Homo sapiens: one gene and its partners. The protein of the gene in region 2 purifies or fractionates together with the protein of the main gene of each other region. This does not show direct contact. Each region holds a gene or a part of one and is shown on either strand. Other genes may lie near its edges. The genes, in order: SERPINB7, GUCY1A1, LCP1, PLA2G4D, SULT2B1 and ALDH1A3.

Region 1 (4,289 bases), on a different chromosome or scaffold from region 2:
AATCTTTGTATTTCTTTTAAAAACATAGTTTCAAATTTTGATCAACCTCTAATCAAATTAGTATATTATGCACTTAAAAGAGTTCAATTCTAATCTCAAAATCTAGTATATTCCAACCTATAATGCCTTAAATAAGAACACAGGAAATATAGAATCTAGATTTGCACATAATCCCTACTTATCTCTTCAAAGATGGAACACAAATTTTTCAGCTGGCATCCGATTCCCATGCCATTCTCCCATGACACCACTTAAATCAGTCATAGACAAGCTGTAAGGTGGAGAAGCAGACAAGAGGACCATTATCCGATCTGGATGTTGTGTGATGAGTTTAATGTCTCAGACACAAAGTAACCAAGATTTATTTCTCTCTCTCTCTCTGTGTCTGTGTGTGTGTGTGTGTGTGTGTGTGTGTGTGTGTGTGTGTGTGTGTCTTTTTTCAAAGGATCTGGCCAGACTTTAAATTATGGACTTCAGAAGTATTTACCTTACTGTCTTCATAGAGGAAGTTGGCCGCTGGTTGGGTGAGTCTGAAAGAGTTCTTTGCATTACTCTGAAATATAAAGCCTCTGACTCAGACACTCCCTACTTTTTTTTTTATGATGGCCATGATAGTTTTAAATAATGTCATTAAAATAAATATATTCAGATGCTTTATAGAGCAATTTAAAAGAAGTCTGTAGAATATTAGCTATAGCTCTAATTCAAAGTAGTCAAATAGATATTTTTAATGAATCAAATTTTAGCATGAAATGTTATTTCATTTGATATTTAGTATCACATAGTATTTTTATGTAGTAAATTTAGATATCCTTACATTAAGGCACAACTGGCACTTCTTACATGTGGAAATGTAGTTACTGATTTTTGTTATTGTTTATTTGATTCCTCCCTGCTCTGATTTTGGTATTTGATGAATATGACCGAGCCCCACCTGGAATAATTCATATTCTGACATCTATAAATTCAACTGTCATAGAGGAGTAGCACTGCAGTCCCAGAGAGGTGAAGAAAGCAAAGTGCTATAGAATAGAGTGGGCCTTTTCTCATCCATAAAATAAAAATTCACACCAATTACATTTTCATTAGTACACACACACATATATATATGTGTGTGTTGCTATGTATGTGTATAATCACTAACATGGTATTTATGCTGTATTTGGGGAACATTGTATTTAAGGGAGGCAGGTGAGCTGTCCCTCTCAAGAGAAGTAGGGTTGTACCTCACATAGTGTTTCTGACTTTATCTTACACATTATTTCCCACAAGTGTTTGCCCATACTGCCTTTATTTTCGTTGTATGATTAATGCTAAAATTGAGTATGCTGACTGTTTGAAGCTCTCTAAGGTGAATATGCTATCAGAGAGAGAGATGCGTTAGAATATATTGAACACATGGAGAGGGATATCTACCCCCATCAGAAAAGAAATACATTAGTGATAGGAACTTAGAAACCAAATAAATATCCAAAAAATGAGCAAATTTGATAATTATTAACTCCAGAGAAAGCTTACATTGTGAAAAGTATATCATAGTACACTTTATAGATCAACTGTGGATAAAATTATCATAGTCTTAATGATTTAAACCCCCCAGTCCTTGTTAGACGTCCATTGGGACCCACTTCTTCCCTTTGTCTACCAGAGCTTCTCACAGACCTTGGTTTATCTAGTATACCCAAAAACTATGCTTCATACCAGGACATGGTCTTTCAATTCGCACTATCTTAAGGCACACAAGAAGGTTTCTGACCACAAAACTCTACCCTCATCTTCTCAAGACTGTCTGAAATCACCACAGCAGTAGCCATCAGCTCCCACGCCACTGATAGAAGTAAGGTTTAGAAGGCAAATAAATCAGGCACGAAAGAATACACACAGTAAGATGCCCTTCATGAAAAGATCAAACCAGACAAAACTGTTTTTTAATGGATGCTTACATGGGTGGATAGACTAAGCCACGGATATAACTGCTTTAGTTACCCCTAGTGGGTGGGGAGGTTTTGTTGGTGAAAGAATGGGGAGGGAGGTTTTAGAGGTTCTGGTGATGTTCTATTATTAAATTGTATGCATCTATTGAATTCATCTTTATGTAGCTACATTATATTTCATTATTTTAAAACTCAACAGCAACAACAAAAAAAACATGAAGCCAAATGACCTAATGCCTCTGGGATAGGGTCATGGCGCATTGTGTATAACTGATAATTGATCTATTCCTGATAGCAGGTTTTGATGGACAATGGGCTGGGACACCAAGCCAAGGATACACAGGCATCAGTGAGGTAAAGAATAGGATGCAAAATAAGTCCAAGACTGACTGACATGGCCCAAGGAAGAGACCACGGGTCACAGTGTTCTCTCCAGCAGAATCCAAACCCAAGCACATTTGTGTATGGTGATAAAAGCTGCCCCACCAGAAAAGCATCCCTCCAAGGAGGCGACCTGGAGAGATTTCAGGCCTCTGAGCATGATCATTGGCCATTTACATCTTCCTTGAGATTCGTTAGTGAACTTACCTCTTGCCTACAACAGAAGATAAGAGCAATAATGTAAATCAATAATTGGATAAGCAAATCAACAGTGTACTCACGCTAGCATCTGATACCCAGAAGCAGTGATGGGAATCTGGTCTCCTTTCTCTAGGTGATCTGTTCTCACTCACAAAGAAAATGTTTCCACACTTCTCAAGACTGTTGAGCCCTAGGTATTTTCCCCCATGCACTTAGGAAGGTGATGAAGGAGAGCTTCGAAGGGAGCCTGTTTTACCACTACCTAATGAACCAAAGTCAGCATTTCTAGACAAAAATTTGTTCTAAAATTCTGAGAATTCAGTTTTAAAGGCTGTCCAAAGGTGCAGCCTGCACTCTGCACAGGCAGCTGCTTATTGATGAGTAGACCTGGCTTCTGGGATGGCTTCCCTATGACTCAGAGCACAGCACTGTCTCTCAAGAATCTTATAAGCATTTAGGTTTTGAACCAGGTTTCAAAATAGTATCTGACTAAGGTGGTTGTTATGTAGTTCATTCAGTTTGTATGTGAATCAGATTTCAGGAGGCAATATTCCCATCTCTGTTTCTTATAATGACAATGGTTTTAACATAACCATAAAAACAAATTTCAGAATCAACAGTATCTGTCAGCCTGGGTCAAAACATACTCTTCTGTGAGAAACACACAAATAGACTAACTAGACATCAAATCAACTAAGGCAAGATAGCAGTGACAACAGTGACTTGGTGAGTTTAGGGTGCCATTTTATTGCAACTTGCCACTCATCTTATAGCCTAATTTCTTTCAACCCTATCCTGTGTAAATTTCCCTAGCATAATGACCTAAAATAGAATCTCACACAATGTTTTTTATCATTCTCCAATCTCAGATTTTCATCTGGACCTCTAACCTTTTGAGCTGGCTTCTCTTTGTACTGCTTTCCATCCTTCCCTCTTTTTCTCAATTTTCTCTGGCTTGGAATTTTCCAGAGAAACATTTGCCCTGTTAGTTATTGCAACTGGCTTCTCTAAATGCTTACCTGAACTGAGCAGCTTCAGATAGGAGCTGAAACTTGGTGTGTTCATTCATTCTTGTCATCCTGCCAGCCTCTCCTCCACCCTTCTGATCTGGCAATGGAAAGCCACGTCTGCACCACCCAGATCCTTCCTCCTATAATACAGGCTAGAGTTTGTTAAAGTGGGTTTGCACTTTGAAAAGTGACCAGGTGTAGGGAAAGGTAGGTTGGGCCCAGTTGGTTGCCTACACCTTTGCCATCAGAACATGCCACACAGGGGCAAAAACACATTTCAGTTTCTGGCCGTAGCATCATGAGGTTGAGCTGTATGTTGCACCTACCTTCACCTGCTATGCATGGAAATGACTGCAAGCCTGGTCCTTCTGCCTGAGTGTTTTCAAAAGTACAGCCAACATTTATCCAAGTAACTGGGTTCTCTATTGTAAAAAGCTATTGGAATTAGAAGGTACCATCATCTTACAGTTGCTCGCCTCTCAATTTTGTGCAATTTTGCCTCTTTCCCAGGAAGAAGGGGGTCCTGTTAACTTATCCAAAATCGAATAAAGTAGTTATTGCTCACCTCCATGATTGTTTATGAGTAGAATAATCATAGAGAAAAGTAAAGTTGCAGAAAATCCCTGAAATTTAATTTTGATTTAGCAGTTGTGGTGAACTTTCTGAAGGAGAAGGTTGTTGTTAATATAAAAAAAAAATGAGCCTACAAATGGATTCCCTGTTCTCCATATTCTAATTGCAGTGTTCATAGGCTGAATATTTT
Region 2 (3,608 bases):
TGCTTTTAAAACATACTTGCAAATTATTTTACACTCCTCCTATTGATTCTTGGGCTCTGAGCCCTCTCTCTTCTGGGCAGACTTGTGATTGCTCTGGCTGATAGAGTGCAGTGGAAGTGTTGCGGTGTGTCTTCCAAGACTAAGTCATGCAGCTTCCACCAGTCTTGTTCAGTGGGACATGAACCACCTCATAAAAAATACATATTAGGGCATCACATGTAACGCTAACAATCCCAGCTGAACCCAACCTTTCAGCCATCCCCACCAAGGAATCTGACATGTAAGTGAAGCAGCAGTCTTGGAATGAATCCTCCAGCTTCAATCGTTGCAATCCCAGCTATTCCAGGCACCCTCACCCATTTCGGTATTCCCAGCTGAGGTCCCATAGATTGTAGAGCACAGACGAGGTATTCCTGCTATGACTTATCCAAATTTTTGATGCACAGAATCCACGCATAATAAAAGTTTGTGATTTTATACCATTAAATTTAGAAAAGTATGTTGCACAGAAACATATAAATGGGATGACAATAGACTTAGAAAATAGTTACGAAGGCTTAAACATATGGCTTCTATTAAGGTTAAAGAGAGTTAAGGGTAAATCTCCAAATATAGTTTTGTTTTTAAATTTCTTCTTTCTTCTCTATATGTTTTATAGCATACCGGATAAGATTTTACAATACCTCAAAGGCTTATTTCTGAAGGTAGTCAACTGAGGACTGTCCTATAAAAATTAAGGGGCAGATTCACTGTGAGACAAAGGTAATCTGCTTATATTCTATCTGTTAAACCAATGCCTACCATGTTAACTTTATTTCCTCATGTGTGGTGAGATATTAGTCTGGAATCTGGCTCATCTAGAAATTTTGAAATGTCACGTGCCTTGGAAAATATTGGTGAATTAACAGTCAACATCCATTCAAATGTAATATCCTCTCCTCCAGGGGCTGGAAAACTAAAACTACATTTTCTAAACTAACTTGCAGCTTCTAAATGCAGTTAGGCTTGGTAAATCAGATGCACAGTTGCATGAGATTCGGCAGGCACAATCTCCACTATAACTCAAGAACAATTGTGGAAGCCTTTGTGTTTTCTATAGCATGCTTAGTAGAGAGTCCATTTTCCCATCACTCATTTTGTAAGTCATGATGCAGGATTGCCATCTTGCTGATTATTATAGTAGATGTGGTTTTGAAGAGGCAGCAGCTTTCTGAACATGGCAGTTTCCTGACTGTGGCTTTGGTAGGATAGTTTTGGAATCAGCTTCCAGATTTTTGAAAATGCAGTTGTTCTGAAGTTTGCCTTTAGAAGCCATTTTACTTTGACAATAGAAAATCCCTATACTATGGGAAACATTTTTTGAAAGCCCAACTTATAGATGGGTTCTTCTGTCCTCTCAATGATTCTGTAAGCCATTTAATACCCTATAATAAATTTCTTCCAATGTAAACAAGTTAGAGAAGATTGTGTTCTCTATATAGATTTTGCTTTCTCTCTCTCTCTCAACTAACCCCCAACTGATACACCATGGTTTTGGTAATCAACTATACGCATTTGCTCTTGTGACATCTTTTGGACAATATATCATCTGCCTTACCTTGATAGGTTCTCCATGGGGAGACATAACTTCATCAGAGAGCTCCATCATCTTCAGGGCCATCAGCGCTATCTGAACAGCATGAGTATCACTCTCTTTGTGTAATCCCCCAGCTACACAATAGGCATCGCCAATGGTCTCCACCTAGACATAATATATTTTCCATACTATAAATAAATGCTCAGGAAGAATCACAGCCTACATCGGATAGAAGAAATTAAGTCATATAGCAGAATTCTCATTGCTCAGGCCTTCTGGAGGATCAGGGTTAATCAGATACGCCCAGAAATGGCTTTCTTTTTCAGGAAATGCGCAAGGTTTAGACCCATTACATTGAGGCACTGCACTGAGAGGCAGTACAGTCCTATGAACACAGTAACAGTTGACTTCTACTCCCAGATTTGCACACTGACTCATCATATCATTTCATCTCTTTTTTTTCACCATATAAGATAGTTTTTGTAGAAACAATATATTTTTGAATTATAATAAATTGTTTAAAGATGTTGGGATCATTTACTCGTTTTATATCCTCCTCATCATAAAATAGTATTTTGCCTCAAGTCACTACTCAATAAATGTCACATCAATGCAGTAAAATTGTGCAATGTAAAACCAAGATATTAATAGTCATAAGAGTAAAGAGAAACGGTTCTTCTAAAGGACCCTTGGGGTCCTCATAGCAATTACATATCTAATGGATACTAATCACAATTATAAAAACCAAGATGTTGAACCAGCAGGTAAAAACAACGGTGGTGTTTGAAAGACCACTGGAAATCAAGCTATTATCAAAAATCTAAGTATTAACCTTATCATTATCATCATCATTATTGTTGTCGTTACAGGCAATTTTTATCTGTCTGTGATGCTGGCTGCAAAAAGCAGATAGTTAATTTTAGTCCAGAAATAACCCCCTAATTCTAAGAGCTTCATTTTTCTTCTTCTCCAAATGTTTATTGTAACTATAAGACCCTATTATTCTTACACAAAGCCTCAATTGTGAAAGGATGAGGGTGAGAAAGGAAAAAAGAAAGGAGGCACAAATCTTCAGAAATTCCCCTCAGAGTAGATGCTGATACCCTTATTATGGCTCCAGATTTCTTCTTTACCTGTCTTTCTCCTAATCTCTGACTTTATCTTCTTATTCTCCATATTGCTCACTTAGTTCCAATGTCACTGCCTTCCATTATCCTTTAAGCACATCAAACATGCTCCCACTTGCTATTCCTTTCTCCTGGAGCAATCTCTCTGCAGATAACCACGTGGTTGTCCCTCCTTTCCTTCAGTCCCTGCTAAAACCTCACCTTATTAGAAAAGCTGATTCCTACCACCCTCTAAGAAATAGCAATCACCCCTTACCCACTGCCCTTCTTCTTCCCCTTAACCTACTTTATTTTTCTTTCACATTATTATACTGACTTAAATACTATAAATTTACTCATTTGTTTATTGTCTTTGTTTCCCCTAATCATATGTAAGCCCTTTGAGTTTATCTAGTTTATTGACTCCTACATTACCTGTGCCCAGTAATGAATGAACCAGGTGGCAATGCCACCCATAAGCTTTTTCTCAGCAATGAGTACATAAGAAGTGCTCATCATGATGGCCATCACAGGTGCTCAATAAATAGGCTAATTAGAAGAAGTCCTACACCCACCCCTACCTGATGTTAGGGGCCTACCATATCTGCTTTTGCAGCCCTTTGTGCATACTGCATCCCTTCGTCACGTCATATGGAAATCTGGCATTGGTCCATTGTGCCCTCTTCTCCCTCTCCATATGTGAACTTTCCTCACAGGGATTGTACCCTCTAGCTCTGTAGCCACTGCGCACCCATGCTGGCAAATGCTGGATAACCAGTACATATTCGCTGAAACAATGGGTAAATGAACACACAGAGAAACAGAAAAATGGCCAAAAACCCAAGAAAGACAGAGAGAAAATAAAATTAAATAAAGCCCTAGTATAATCCAGTCTTGGAATAAATAACGCTGACTATTCTTTCAAA
Region 3 (3,608 bases), on a different chromosome or scaffold from region 2:
GTCTCCCTTCTTTGCTGCTCAGAAATGTATCCCTTTATCCCTGAAGTATGACAAGTCACCAGCCCAAAGCCTGGGTTTTGCGAATGATGTCTGAGCCCCTGAAAAAGGCGGACTCAGCAGTTATGATGCTCATTGATGCCAAACAAATCCTGTATTATGGTAACGGTGGGAAGACATACCTGAATGGTGAAAGGGGTTAGCTTCTTTTTGTTGATTGTTCTTTCATCAATTGTGTCTGGCACTGACAGGTTGATCATTTTACTGAAAGAGAAACAATTAAATTAAAGAAAGCAGTCTTCTGAATAACAGAGCCCAGTAACGTTGAATTTAAATTCTAGCAATACCATAATCAAAGAAGATAGCAACAGAATCTGTGATGTTTAGATATAAAATCAGTTATGCCGTTTGACTAGACTCAAACTATCTGCGGGAAAGGTGAATACTACTGAAGCCACATTCATATATTGAGGTTGGAAATGAGGACCCCACTTCATTCTCCCACCTAAACAGCTGCAAAATTATCCTGATTTTCTTAGCACATTAGGAAATTCTGGGTGGATAACCAAAGTAATTCTACCATAAGTACTTTATTTTCTTAGCCATGAAAATTGTCCCCATTATATAAAAGACTGTCTACAAAATTCTGAGCTTATTATTGTCTACATTTCTATTTGACACAGGACCAAACTTTGTATCTTCAGCTAATCATATGATAACATTTTTATATCCTTCTCAGTGCCCTAGGCTGAGTACCAATGAGTCACAGGGGTCTTAGAAGGTAAAACTAGCAGATTGGGGGAAGACCATGGGGTGCCTTGGGTGGCAACCTAAAAGCTAGAATTTTGATTTTTTTATAGCAATTGAACCTTTTAAAAATGAATTCTCAGGACAAACTAATAAATAAAATATCAAAAGTAGAATTGCTCTGGTCAGAGCAGAGGAGAAAGCTCAATGTCTTTCCCACCCATTGTTATCCTTTAAGTCCTGAGTCCCTCACATATTGAGCACCTCAAGTCACTTCACTTACAACTTGGCCTGTGATGACAGAGAACCTGCTGAAGCAAGAGCTACAGAGGTATTTTCAAAGACACCACGTTGCATTGAGCAGCACCATATTTAGAGGCCTCCCGTGGGTAGGATGCAGTCCCCCTTTTCCAGGTGTCCTCAATGTTTGAGTTGTGGATTTCTGTGCATCACTCAAAGGTTTCTTTGCTTAAGGACTACAGTTTAAGGACTTCTTCCATCATCCTGCTGCTATTATCAATTCTATCTGCTTTCATGGTGAGCCACGCTCAGATGAAGCCAAGCAGCATATATTCCAAAAATATATAACCAGGAAAATTGTCCTCATTATAGAAGAGACTATCTATGTACTTCTGAGCTTACATAATGTCTACATTTCCGCTTGATGCCTGATCCAACTTTATACTTTAAACTTGTCATCAGATAAACTTTTTAATGTCCTTCTATAGTCATTATTTAATCAGTATTTTATAAGTTTCCCCCACTTAATTATCTAATACATTGATTAGACATCTAATGCTTTTGACTTGGTATAACTATATCTTCCATGTTTATCTCTATAATGTTTATCCCTCCTCTCCACTCAAGCAATAGCAATTTTACATTTCTCATTATAAATTGTTTTTGAATTTAGTTTGCTGTCCTGGACCTGGCCAAGTGAAAGTCCAGAAAAGCCTTCTAGGTGCAGCTGAGCACCAAACAAAGTTGGCCTACGATAAATAACGATTAATTGTTGATGGTCTAGAAAATGGGCAATTCTTTGGAAACCAAGAAAGAAGTATTATTTACCAAAGGACAATGCCATCTCCAACAGCATTAAAGAGATCATTCGTGTTTGGGTTCATTGGGATGACATGCCGACAATCAGGATCATTTTCCAGGGCTTTGTTTATCCAGTTGACAAAGGCATACTTTTCTTCCTCTGCAAGTAAATGATTAAAGTGACTCATTTGCAAAGTGAAACTCTATTATAAACAAAATTATGCATGTGGATCTTAAATTCTCATTCCCAGCAGAGAGATGTGAGTTTATTCAGTCCATTATCTTATCATCTCATATTTATTAAGATTTAAAAATCTCAGATCACTTGGGAAATAGGCATTGAGTCTGTGTACTCCAAGTCATAAAACATAGAGCAAACAGATTTAAAAACTATCTCTCTGTTTCTTTTCTTTTCTTTTTTTTTTTTTTGAGATGGAGTCTCACAGTGTCACCCAGGCTGGAGTGCAGTGGCGCGATCTCGGCTCACTGCAAGCTCTGCCTCCTGGTTCACGCCATTCTCCTGCCTCAGCCTCCCCCGTAGCTGGGACTACAGGCGCCCGCCACAACACCCAGCTAATTTTTTGTATTTTTAGTAGAGACGGGGTTTCATCGTGTTAGCCAGGATGGTCTCGATTTCCTGACCTCGTGATCTGCCCACCTCAGCCTCCCAAAGTGCTGGGATTGCAGGTGTGAGCCACCGCGCCCGGCCAAAACTATCTCTCTGTTCCTATATATACGCATAATCCAGATATATATTTACATTTAGAAGCAAATATATACATATGTTTATTTTCTATATATAAATACATAAATAATAAAAATATTTTATTTATATGTGCATGTATACATATATATATACACATATAAATACAAATGTGGTATAATGCTTACAGGACAAAACTCAGGATTCCGCTTTTAGCTCTGCTGGTTTAAATGTTGGATCACTGTGGACAATCCTTATTGTACCTCTGAGTTTCTTGATACAATTATAATTAAATTGCTATAAAATAAAATCATTTGGATATAATCTTTTTTTCCTAACAGTAAAGCTGCCAGAAGGTGATTTTTAGATGTTTTAATAAAAACTCAAGTTATGTCTTCACAGCCTAGCACTATGTTTCCCAAACTGACAGTTTTTGAAAACAGTAGTGTCCCTCAGAGAAATCCTGAGTCATAAAAGTTTGGGAAATACTGTGTAGTGAATGTATCTCCGCCTTAAAGATTCACATTGCACATTTGACCCAGCAAAGGTTCTGAAAATTCCTGTATTTAAAAACAAAAGGCCAAACGTTGTCTTAGCAACTATAGATGGTATTTAATCATGACTTATCTTTTTTTTTTTTTTTTTTTTTTTTGAGACAGAGTCTTGTTCTGTCGCCAGGCTGGAGTGCAATGGTGCAATCTCGGCTCACTGCAACCTCTGCCTCCTGGGCTCAAGCGATTCTCCTGTCTCAGCTTCCCGAGTCGATGAGATTACAGGCATGCGCCACTGCACCCAGTAGAACGGGGTTTCACCATGTTGCCCAGGCTAGTCTTTAACTCCTGACCTCAGGTGATCCACCCGCCTTGGCCTCCCAAAGTGCTGGGATTACACGCGTGAGCCACTGTGCCCGGCCTCATGAGTTTATCTTTAAGATCAACTAACGTTTTGAATAATTCAGTTTTGGAAATGTTGCAACAACTATACTGTTTGGCCTGTTGGAAGTTTCCATTATGGCTGTTGGATGGCAGCCTTCGGAATAAATTTACAAATTTATTCCAAATCAATGAAAACATAATTTTTTGATCACTTAGCAGGTGTTAAAAATTATCATGAAGTTTAA
Region 4 (3,608 bases), on a different chromosome or scaffold from region 2:
CGTCCAGCTGTTCTTTGGAGTAGGTGTGGGGAGGTCCCTCCCTGTTCACCTGTCCTGGGAGCCCAAGGCCCCTGCACCACCCCAGCCTTCCCACCTAAGGACCCTGGCAGGAGCCAGCAGATCAAGGCCTGACACCTCTCCTTCCCTTCGGGACCCCGGCGGTGTGGGGCAGGGGCTCAGTGGCCCTGCTGCTCGCCTCTGGAGCTTGGCCTGGCTGGGCAGAGGGGTTCCCCTGGGGTGACCAGGGTACCTCGAAGGGCGCAGATAGGGAGTAGTCGAAGGAGAGGATGAGGTCCAGCCTGCGGCCTGGCCGGAACATGGAGGGAGAGCTGGTGTTGATGAAGTAGGCGGCGTCCACCAGGCAGAGCCGGGGCTCCTTGGGGGTCAGCTGGCTGGGCATGGAGTCAAGCTGGTAGTCTGGTGGGAATCGCAGGATGGTCAGAGGCCACCACCCTGCCACAGGTCATCCATGTCCCCTTCTCTCCTCTGGGTCACTCCTTAAATGCCACCCAGCCCTTCCCCAGGACCTTCCAAGGGGATCGTCTCCAGGCCACACCCCAGAAGTGGATGCTGACCTCCTAGGCCTCAGCCAGTCCCTGCCACACCACCCAGAGGCCCAACCTTGTGACCTAGGGACCCCTGGCCACGGCCCTGACCTGCCCAGGTGGAGAAGTCTTTGTGGCTACAGTAGTCCTGGTGCAGCTGGAGGCCCTGGAGGAAGTTGGGGCTGCGCTGGTGGAGGGGCCTGCCTGTCAGGAAGCCTTTAAATGCCTGGGCCAGCGCCGTGCCTGGCTGCAGCCACGAGGCCTCCAGCCGCGAGGAGGTCCCCGAGGTGGTCAGGGGCTCCTTCTCTGAAGCCAGAGAAACAGAAATTGGTCCCTTCTTCCCCTTACTTCTTCCCCTCAGACACCGCACACCGCAAGCATTCTAAAGGAACAGCGTCATCCCAGGCCCCTCAGTGCCCCTGCCCTTCCCACCTAAGCTCCTGGTCTTGTCCTTGATGTGCTGTTTCCAGGACTCCCCAGAACTGGTGAGGTCATACCAGGCATCCAGCAGGTTCAGGGAGAAAATGTTGCTCCAGATGGCTGAGGAACACCAAAAGAGATCAGCCTCAGGCCCCAGCCAGCGGCCCCACCCTCAGGTACTGATGGAAAATGGGAGTGGGGCGAGGGCTACCCCTACAATGCATCCCCCCCGCCACCCCTCCCCCTTGTCCTGAGGTTCTGCCCCACCTGAGCTACAGGACCCATGTCCATTCAGACACCTGGCCCAGGGCTGCCCAGGGCCTTCAGAGCCACCACCCTCACCTTCCAGAAAGCAGATCCGGGGCTCCGGGATCCTCCTCATCAGCCGTCCCATGAAGAACTCGGAGCCGAAGAGCTCAGGAGGGACGAAGGCCCCGTACTTCAGGAAACCGACCTCATAGGGGGAGAACTCAACCCACTCTAATGGGGTGGGAAGGAGAGGCAGGAGTGTGAGGGGAGTGGATTGCGGGAGTCCCCAGCTCTGGCGAAAGACACTGCCCCTGCCCCCAGCAGGCCTGAGCCCTGCTGTGCCTGGCACCAATGCAGCAGATGTGAGGAATGGGCAGTCCTGGACTGACCACACCCCTCCCAGCCCTTGGTCCACACCCTCAAGCACTACCCACTCTCAAGCACAGAGAGATGCCCTGAGCCCCTCAGCACCACTGCCCTTCCGGAACATTGGGCAATCTGTGCGGAGCTTCCAGCATGAATTCTCTGGGGGCTGTCGGGGTGCAGAGGGTTTGGGGGGTGGAGTATGTGGGAGGGGAGTAGGTAGAACTGTACCCTTGAAGTCCAGTGTCTCCAGATTGTTCTCTTTGACATTGAGGCTCAAGTAGAGGGGCAGAGGGTTCTGACCCCGTTCCAGGGCGGCTCTCTGTCCTGACAGCTTCTGATCCATCACCTGGGGCCAGAGGGCATCAGGGCCTAAGTGAGGCTGGGAGTACCCTGGAGGCAGTGGCTCCGCCAGGACAGGGGCAGGATGGGGGACCTGGCTGGGGGTGAGGAGGCAGCTCCTCCCGTGGGGTCTGGGGACCATATGTGGGTCAGTTCCCACTCCTGCCCCTGTGTTCTGAACAGCCCTAGATGCAGGGTCGCTGGACAGGGCATGCAGGCTGTGTACTATGAATCTCCAGCGAGGGCCATTCATAGGGACCACAATGCCAGCGGTGCTTCCAGGCCCATCTTCGTGGATTTAAGGGTGAAGTGGGTGTGGATACTGACACACAGACACAAGGACACATGCACACATCCACGTATTGCTTTGTAGAAAGGATGCAGCAATGCCCTTTTAGCATATACTGCAACCTATGCCAGGGGATGGACTGCCCCCTCTTCTAGGTTCACCTTAATGCAGTTCAAGTTTCAGCTCCTCCCGAATGCTTTCCTGACATCCTTGCCTCCCCCTCATCGTCCCTCTTCTTTCTTGCTTTGCATAACATGAGGTTGTACCCCATTGATTATTCTTGCCTTCTGTTCTTAATTTCCTCCTCAATAGAGCTCCAAGCTCTGCCTTTGTTTTATTTTATTTTGAGACAGGGTCTCACTCTGTCACCCAGGCTGGAGTGCAGTGGTGCAATCTTGGATCACTGCAACCTCCACCTCCCAGGCCCAAGTGATCCTCCCACCTCAGCCTCCCGAGTAGAGTAGCTGGGACTACAAGTTACACTTGGCTAATTTTTGCATGTTTTGTAGAGATGGAGTTACATCATGTTGCCCAGGCTGGTCTCAAATTCCTGAGCTCAAGCAATCCACCTGCCTTGGCGTCCCAAAGTGCTGGGATTACAGGCGTGAGGCACCATGCCTGGCCCAAGCTCTTTGATGGCAACGACTATAGCTTGCCTTTTGGGGGAGCCTCCACAGAGCCTCCCTGAATTGTAAGGGAACAGAAAGGCCTCATTCTATGCTGAGCTAGAATTGCAAATAGAGCTCTTCCCAAGCACCAGCAAGGCGAATGGTGGTGCCTGCCTGGAGCACCACCTTGGGAAGGATTCTGCCGCCAGAGCTGAGGTTGATGCTGTCAGCCCTGGGCTGTTTCTACTGGGCAGTATGTGTACCATGAATACGTCATCCTTCCTTTGGGCTCTCCAAGATGGAAGAGTGTCTAGTTCTAGAGGCTCCCAACCTGCCGCAGCAGCCCTTATCATCAGAGTGACTCAGTGAATGTGTACACGTGAGAGCATGTGAAGCATGCGGACTTCTGGGTCTCCCCTGAGAATCAGCCTGTCAGAAGTCACTTTGGAGTTTGCCTTTTAAAAACCCTCAGATGATCCTGATGCCCAGCCAGGTGTGAGGATTCCTACCCAGCCTACCCAAGGAGGGTCCCTCTCCCACATCCATGGCGAAACTCAACACACCCAGTGTGTGTGTCCTCCTTGCTGGCAGCTCTTCTGTCCCTGACGAGAACACTCATGTGTCAACCACAGTCATCCTTCCACCCCATTTTCCAATGGTCCCCAGTATGAATTACAGGGAATTTGCAGGAAATCTCTAAATAGGGCTCGATCCCCTGCCACTGATGGTGGTGGTGTACGTACGAGTCAGTCCTTAGGTACAAATGTGTGTACGTGACCCCTTCTCAAAATC
Region 5 (3,608 bases), on a different chromosome or scaffold from region 2:
CAGCAGAAAAATGAAATGGGGTTGGGTGGACAGCTCACCAGTCTCTGCCCTGCACCACTTTCCTAGCTTTGTCCCCTTGGACGAGCGACATGGTTTCTGTAAGGCTCAGTTTCTGGCTCCGAAAATGAGGTTAAGCAACCTTGCCTTCTCTGCCAGCTGTAAGGAATCAGTGTGATAAAATAGGTGGTAAATTGCTCAATAAATGCTGTCAGGCAGGGCGTGGTGGCTCACAGCTGTAATCCCAGCAGTTTGGGAGGCCGAGGTGGGCAGAGCACCTGAGGTCAGGAGTTCGAGACCAGCCTGGCCAACATGGGGAGACCTCGTCTCTACTAAAAATACAAAATTAGCCAGGCGTGGTGGTGGGCGCTTGTAATGCTAGCTACTCGGCTGAGGCTGAGGCAGGAGAATTGCTTGAGCCTGGGAGGTGGAGGTTGCAGTGAGCCGAGATCGCGCCATTGCACTCCAGCGTGGGCAACAGAGTAAGACTCTGTCTTAAAAAAAAATAATAAAAGGTGGCAAATTGCTCAATAAGTGCTGTTGTGATTATTCTGATGATATCTCCCTCTTCAGCCCTCCCACACCCAATTAATCTGCTCGATTTCTCCCAACAGGCACGACCTGGATGATCGAGATCATCTGCTTAATCCTGAAGGAAGGGGATCCATCCTGGATCCGCTCCGTGCCCATCTGGGAGCGGGCACCCTGGTGTGAGACCATTGTGGGTGCCTTCAGCCTCCCGGACCAGTACAGCCCCCGCCTCATGAGCTCCCATCTTCCCATCCAGATCTTCACCAAGGCCTTCTTCAGCTCCAAGGCCAAGGTTGGGAGGAGGGGTGTGTGTCAGTTGGGAGGGGCTGCATGGGTGTATGGGGTAATGGGGGGACGGAGCATAACTCATTGATTCATTCAGCACCTATTTGTTAAACACCTACTATGTGCCTGACTCTGATCTAGCACAGTGGTCAATATACACACAGAAATGCCTGCCCTTTGGCAGGGAGTGATGGCTCATGCCTGTAGTCCCAGCACTTTGGGAGGCTGAGGCGGGAGGATCACTTTGGGCCAGGAGTTTGAGACCAGCTTGGGCAACATAGTCAGACCACATCATTACAAGAAATTTTAAAAATCAGTCAGACGTGGTGGCACACACTTGTAGTCCCAGCTACTTGGAATGCTGAGGTGGGAGGATCACTTGAGCCCAGCAGGTCAAGGCTGCACTGAGCTGAAATCACCTTACTGCACTCCATCCTAGGCAACAGGGCAAGACTGTCTCAAAAAAAAAAAAAAAAAAAAAAAAAAAAAAAAAGCCGGTGCTGGCATGGTGGCTCACGCCTGTAATCCCAGCACTTTGGGAGGCAGAGGCAGGCAGATCACTTGAGGCCAGGAGTTCAATACCAGCTTGGCCAACATGGTGAAACCATGTCTCTACTAAAAATACAAAAATTAGTCGGATCTGGTGGTGGGTGCCTGTAATCCCAGCTACTCAGGAGGCTAAGGCAGGAGAATTGCTGGAACCTGGGAGGTGGAGGTTGCAGTGAGCTGAGATGGCACCACTGCACTCCAGCCTGGGAGACAGACCAAGATTTCATCTCAAAAAAAAAAAAAAAAATTACAGCCAGGCGCAGTGGCTCACGTTTGTACTCCCAGCACTTTGGGAAGCCAAGGTGGGCAGATCACCTGAGGTCAGGAGTTTGAGACCATCCTGACCAACATGGAGAAAACCTGTCTCTACTAAAAATACAAAGTTAGCTGGGCGTGGTGGCACATGCCTGTAATCCCAGCTACTTGGGAGGCTGAGGCAGGAGAATCGCTTGAACCCAGGAGGCGGAGGTTGTGGTGAGCCGAGATCGCGCCATTGCACTCCAGCCTGGGCAACAAAAGCAAAACTCCGTCTCAAAAAAAAAACCCCCATATATTATACTACATATTATAATAATTTAATAGTATTACAATATACTTTAATTATATTTAATATTTATATGTTTAACATATAATAACATAATGCAATATAATATAATACATAAAATGTCTGATGGGATAAATTTACATTGGGGGGAGAGGGCTGGAGATAGAGTTAGAGGTGGGTGTGGGGCTGCAATTATAAATAAGGAGGTCAAGGGGGCCCCCAGTGAGTAAAAACCCGGGAGGTGATGGTGGGAGCCACAGAGGTTTCTAGAGGAAGAGCATTTCAGGCAAGAGGGAAAAGCAGGTGCAAAGGCCCTGAGGTGGGTGTATCTGAGGTGCAAGAGGGAGGTCGGTGTGGCCGGAGCCAAGTGAGCAAGTGGGGAAAGGAGTGGAGATGAGGTCCGGGTGGGGAGGCAACAGGGGCCAAAATGTGCAGGGCCGCGTGGGCCCGGTGCGGACTTGAGCTCTGACCGAGTGACGAGGCAGCGCGGCAGGGATCGCAGCAGAGGAGGAGCCCGAGCGGGCTTAGGCTTCACCGGCGCCCTCTGGCGGTCAGATGGGGACCGACTGTCGAGAGAGCAGAAGCCGGGAAGCCCGAGAGGCGGCGCTGGCCGGGGTCCAGGGGAGGGGACGGTGGCTGGACTAGGGTGATGGTCACGGAGGTATTTTGAAGGTGAGACCGGGAGGATTTGCTGACAGACTGGATGTGGGTGTGAGAGAAGGGGATGAGTCAAGGGTGACTCCAAGGTTTCGGCGGAAGCAACTGTCAGGGTGGGGCAACTGGGAAGGGGAGGAGGGAGGGGAGCAGGCGGGGGAGGAAGACACGGGCTCTGCGGCGGCCCATCCCACGTCCAGCAGAGGCTGCCGGTGGGCACAGAAATGCACCCATCGGGATCTGAGGGGAGAGACTTGGGCTGACACGTCCATTTGCAATTCCTTGGCACATATATTCTGTAATTAATCGAAGCTCCAGGACTGGGTGATATCGCCAAGGAATTGAGCGTGGACAGAGCAGAGAGGGGGGGCTGCAATCAGGAAGTCCCCAAGACCACCCTCAGGCTCAACGACTTAGCAAAACTCATAGTGTTCAGCAAAGCTGCTGGACTCCCGGGTTATAGTCAATTACAATGAAAGCAAACGTGAAAATCAGGCAAGGGGGCCGGGCGCGGTGGCTCACGCCTGAAATCCCAGCACTTTCAGAGGCCAAGGTGAGCAGTTGATTGAGCCCAGGAGTTCAAGACCAGCTGGGCAACTTAGAAACACCCATCTCTACAAAAAAGTTTAAAAATTCGTCACGTGTAGTGGCATACACCTGTAGTCCCAGCTACTTGGGAGGCTGAGGTAGGAAGATCACTTGAGCCTGGGAGTTTCAGGCTGCAGTGAGCCATGATTGTGCCACAGGCACTCCAGCCTCAAGGACAGAACAAGACCTTGTTTCTTTTCTTTTTTCTTTTTCTTTCTTTTTTCTTTTTTTGAGACAGAGTTTCCCTCTTGTTGCCCAGGCTGGAGTGCAATGGCACGATCTTGGCTCACTGCAACCTCTGCCCCTCTGCCTCCAGGGTTCAAGCGATTCTCTTGCCTCAGCCTCCCAAATAGCTGGGATTACAGGCGCCCACCACCATGCCCAGCTAATTTTTTGTATTTTCAGTAGAGACGGGGTTTCACCATGTTGACCAGGCTGGTCTCGAACACCTGACCTCAGG
Region 6 (3,608 bases), on a different chromosome or scaffold from region 2:
TGAACTTAGCAAGAAGCAACTCAGGAGAGCTGAAATACACACACAGTCAACTCACCAGACCGTTCCAGACTCTAAGGCAGAAGCCAACTTCAGGGCTTTGTCGAGATTTTTTGTGAACACGGCTGCTGTGAGTCCATAGTCGGTGCTATTCGCTCTTTTTATCACTTCTTCGATACTTTTGAACTTCAGTATTGGTTGCACTGGCCCGAAAATCTATGATTAATTGCAAGAATGGCAATGAGAGGCATGACTGAATGGAAATGCATGCTGTGAACAAGCATTTCCTTCTCTTTACATGTTTTTCATATGCCCAGAGCACACACATGCCTGAAAAACGATGATTAGAGAAGAAAGAACGTCCAAACATTGCTTCAGCTGCATTGCCATTGGAGACTGAAGGGAAGGATTAACATGAAACAAAAATAAAAAATAATAACAAAAAATATATGTTGTGTTTAAGATGTCTTGTTGTCATCAGGGTTTCCGAGAAACCCAGCCAGAGAGCCTTGGAGTAACCCATAGATGCACAGAACACAAAACCTTTAGGTAACTTTTTTCGGAGTTGTCCTGAAGGATATCTGCAGGCACTTTGTAAGACTGTGCTCCTACCTCTTGGAGCTGTGTTTTCTACCAAGGAAGACACCCTAGAACGTTTCCATAATAACTACCAGGGGAAGGAATGACACAATATTCACCACAGTTTGTGACACAGCAAAGAAAAGGAAATGGAAGAACTAAGGCTTGAACATTTAAAGGTGATTTTGAAGGGAGCTTGTAATTGATTCAATATTAGACATAATTATAAGCCGGCAGGATGGTGCCTGGCCTGCCAAAATACCTTCCGGGTTCCCCAGGACCTCTCGTCACAGGGATGTTTAAGGAGCTGAGCTTCATGCCATCACGGCACATAACAATCTCAAGGAAGACGCCTCTGAAATACCTGCCCCAGAAAGCCCTTGGCAGGGACTCATCCTTTTATGTGCCCCAAAATACCACCTCCAGGGTCTAACCTCCTGGGATCCAGCTCTCCTCTTACAAATGCTGTGTGGGAACCAGTTCCCGTCTAGTGTAACAGTGGAGTTGAAAGAGAAAGATTTACACTCTTATGGGAGTGGGGGAGTCTCCTTAATTTCCCTCATTTTCAAGACGTCCGTGGTGGAAAATGTCAATAAAAATTCCAGCTGTGACATGTTCCTTGAGTGAACACTTGAAATTCAGTCTAGGGGCACTGAAGGCGGCTTTGGGCCCTGAATCCACAGGTTCTTGAACTGATTCCTGGCAAAACCCACAGGTGGCAACAGTTCTCCACCTGCGGCTGCATGACTGACTCGGGGACCGGTTGTGTTAGAAAATCAGAGAGGGCTTGCTGCTCCCAGAGAGGGTGAGCCATGAGTGAAAACTAGCTAGAACAAACAAGGTACCTGCTGTATCATGCTTGGAGTTCGCCAGAGGCAGGACAAAACGGCTTCCCTAGGGACCCCAAAGGAGAGGGGAAAGACCACACAGAAAAAACAACAACGACAACAACAGCAACAAAAACAAAAAAACACTCAGATCACAAGGATTTCTGGGATCCCTGGGCCCTAGGGAAGGACTCGTGTTTGAAAGGCCCCGCAAGTCGTAGCCTTGCCACAGCCCCCTTGTACCTCCTCTTTGGCAATCCGCATGTTGTCTGTGACTTCTGAGAAGACAGTGGGTTTGATGAAGAGCCCCTTGTCTTCCATGGCTGAGCCCCCGCATTCCAGCTTGGCCCCTTCCTTCTTCCCACTCTCGATCAGCTCTAAGATTTTGTCGAACTGCTTTTGATCAATCTGCAAGACACAAACAAGAAGTACAGCCTGGCTTCCTTCTGGGCAGTGGCTGCCATCTCATGTTTTCAGTGGCCTTCAACATGATCAGCCATCCTCCCTCTGCATGTTCTTGTCAAGCCATGATCCATGTAACTAATGAGCCTTGCAGGCAAATATTCCTCTGATGCACAGAGCTGGGCTCTTTGGAGCAGGGGAGAGATGGGGAGATAGACTAGTCTCATCCTCTGGAGGTTTGGGACATATTTACACTTCTATCTCCCTTTTCCATGCAGCAAAGTTAGTCCATGAGTGACACAGGTCTGAAGTGGTCACAGTCTTTCTTCTCCCAACTCTTTACATTCTACTCAGGTTGCCAAATTTAGCAAATAAAAATACGGGATGCCCAGTGAATCTGAATTTCAGAAAAATGACACATAATTTTTTTTAGTATGTCCCAAAACAATATTTGGGATATACTTAAGCTAAAAGTGCATTTACTGTTTATCTGAAATTCATGTTTACCTGGGTGCCATGTATCACCTGGCAACCCTGTGCCCTGCTCAGTTGGCACCGTGAATCAGGGTAATAGTTACTGGAATTCTCCTGTCATGGTGCAGAGAAGCGAGAAGAAAAGCTAACCACCTTACTCAACACCCCTGGGGACAAAGCAGAATGAGCCTCCAGGTGGGGTGGCAGGGCTGCTCCTTGGTTGGTGGTGGGAACAGCTCATGAGAAAGACTCTCCCTTTTGCTATCTTGTCTAGACGTCTCCTTGGCTGGAGTTTGCCCTGTGCCACCAGCCTGACCCACAGCTTGTGAACACGCTACTGAGCAGTTGTCAAAAGCGCACCCTTTTGGGAGACTGCTCAAGAGGGAAAATGCTCTTTCTGCCCCCTCCACTGGTCCTTCTTCCTGAAATCTATGGGAATCTTGTCCTTTATCATGATCTGTGGCTGGTCTCCCTCCTCTTTGGCTGGGAGAGACAAAGCTTTACTAGGTTTACTTTAGCTGGGATTTTTAGATGGGAAAACTGGTTTCATTCCAATGATCATAAACAGAAAAAGAAGCAAACCCAGTGGTGCAATTGGATGACGGTCTGTCCTGGAGGAGCAGGAGAGAGGGCATAAACCGTGCATGCCACTTGACCAATCATCTCATGAAATATGGACCCAGTTTAAAAATACTAACTCAGATCCATACCTCACACTTTATACCAGGCCAAACTCCAAACCCAGTTTAAAAATACTGACTCAGATCCATACCTCACACCTTATACCAGGCCAAACTCCAAACCCAGTTTAAAAATACTAACTCAGATCCATACCTCACACCTTATACCAGGCCAAACTCCAAACCCAGTTTAAAAATACTAACTCAGATCCATACCTCACACTTTATACCAGGCCAAACTCCAAATAGATCAAAGATATAACCAGGAAAAACAAAACCATAAAAGTTTTATATGTGGGAGACTTATCCTGCAAACTTGGAGTGCCTTCTAATGACTCAAAATGCAGAAGCCAAAAAAGAAAAGATGTATAATTTTGAGTATGTAAAAAAAATGGGGTGGGGGCAAAATTATCATAACAAAGAGCAAAACAACAAACTTGGAAAAAATATTAACAAGTCATATTCATAGAAAGCTAATCTCTCTACTATGTATGTAAAGAGGTCTTAGAAGTGATAAGAAAAATGCCTAACAGCTTGCAAGAAAAATACGCAAAGCACATTTGATAATAAAGGAAATACAAACGGTTTTTAAATATATAATAAGATGTTCTACCTTGCTTATTATAAGCGGTAGATGCATATTAAAATG

Evidence for each region.
Region 1: the proteins of GUCY1A1 (region 2) and SERPINB7 purify together in Homo sapiens (affinity purification with mass spectrometry; one large-scale study listed by BioGRID and IntAct). This does not show direct contact.
Region 3: the proteins of GUCY1A1 (region 2) and LCP1 purify together in Homo sapiens (affinity purification with mass spectrometry; one large-scale study listed by BioGRID and IntAct). This does not show direct contact.
Region 4: the proteins of GUCY1A1 (region 2) and PLA2G4D purify together in Homo sapiens (affinity purification with mass spectrometry; one large-scale study listed by BioGRID and IntAct). This does not show direct contact.
Region 5: the proteins of GUCY1A1 (region 2) and SULT2B1 purify together in Homo sapiens (affinity purification with mass spectrometry; one large-scale study listed by BioGRID and IntAct). This does not show direct contact.
Region 6: the proteins of GUCY1A1 (region 2) and ALDH1A3 purify together in Homo sapiens (affinity purification with mass spectrometry; one large-scale study listed by BioGRID and IntAct). This does not show direct contact.

What each region holds. Positions count from the first base shown.
Region 1 is NC_000018.10:63,774,024-63,778,312, reverse strand, and holds the start of SERPINB7 (serpin B7), read right to left. Parts: upstream 2,896-4,289; 5' UTR 2,597-2,895; intron 533-2,596; exon of another isoform or gene 488-532; intron 1-487. UniProt on the Homo sapiens protein: Might function as an inhibitor of Lys-specific proteases. Might influence the maturation of megakaryocytes via its action as a serpin.
Region 2 is NC_000004.12:155,715,292-155,718,899, reverse strand, and holds part of GUCY1A1 (guanylate cyclase soluble subunit alpha-1), read right to left. Parts: intron 1,742-3,608; coding exon 1,598-1,741; intron 1-1,597.
Region 3 is NC_000013.11:46,154,626-46,158,233, forward strand, and holds part of LCP1 (plastin-2), read right to left. Parts: intron 1,946-3,608; coding exon 1,813-1,945; intron 262-1,812; coding exon 180-261; intron 1-179.
Region 4 is NC_000015.10:42,070,467-42,074,074, forward strand, and holds part of PLA2G4D (cytosolic phospholipase A2 delta), read right to left. Parts: intron 1,927-3,608; coding exon 1,809-1,926; intron 1,446-1,808; coding exon 1,308-1,445; intron 1,086-1,307; coding exon 978-1,085; intron 852-977; coding exon 657-851; intron 418-656; coding exon 251-417; intron 1-250. UniProt on the Homo sapiens protein: Calcium-dependent phospholipase A2 that selectively hydrolyzes glycerophospholipids in the sn-2 position. Has a preference for linoleic acid at the sn-2 position.
Region 5 is NC_000019.10:48,586,618-48,590,225, forward strand, and holds part of SULT2B1 (sulfotransferase 2B1), read left to right. Parts: intron 1-611; coding exon 612-820; intron 821-3,608. UniProt on the Homo sapiens protein: Sulfotransferase that utilizes 3'-phospho-5'-adenylyl sulfate (PAPS) as sulfonate donor to catalyze the sulfate conjugation. Responsible for the sulfation of cholesterol.
Region 6 is NC_000015.10:100,903,726-100,907,333, reverse strand, and holds part of ALDH1A3 (retinaldehyde dehydrogenase 3), read right to left. Parts: intron 1,812-3,608; coding exon 1,647-1,811; intron 214-1,646; coding exon 56-213; intron 1-55. UniProt on the Homo sapiens protein: Catalyzes the NAD-dependent oxidation of aldehyde substrates, such as all-trans-retinal and all-trans-13,14-dihydroretinal, to their corresponding carboxylic acids, all-trans-retinoate and all-trans-13,14-dihydroretinoate, respectively.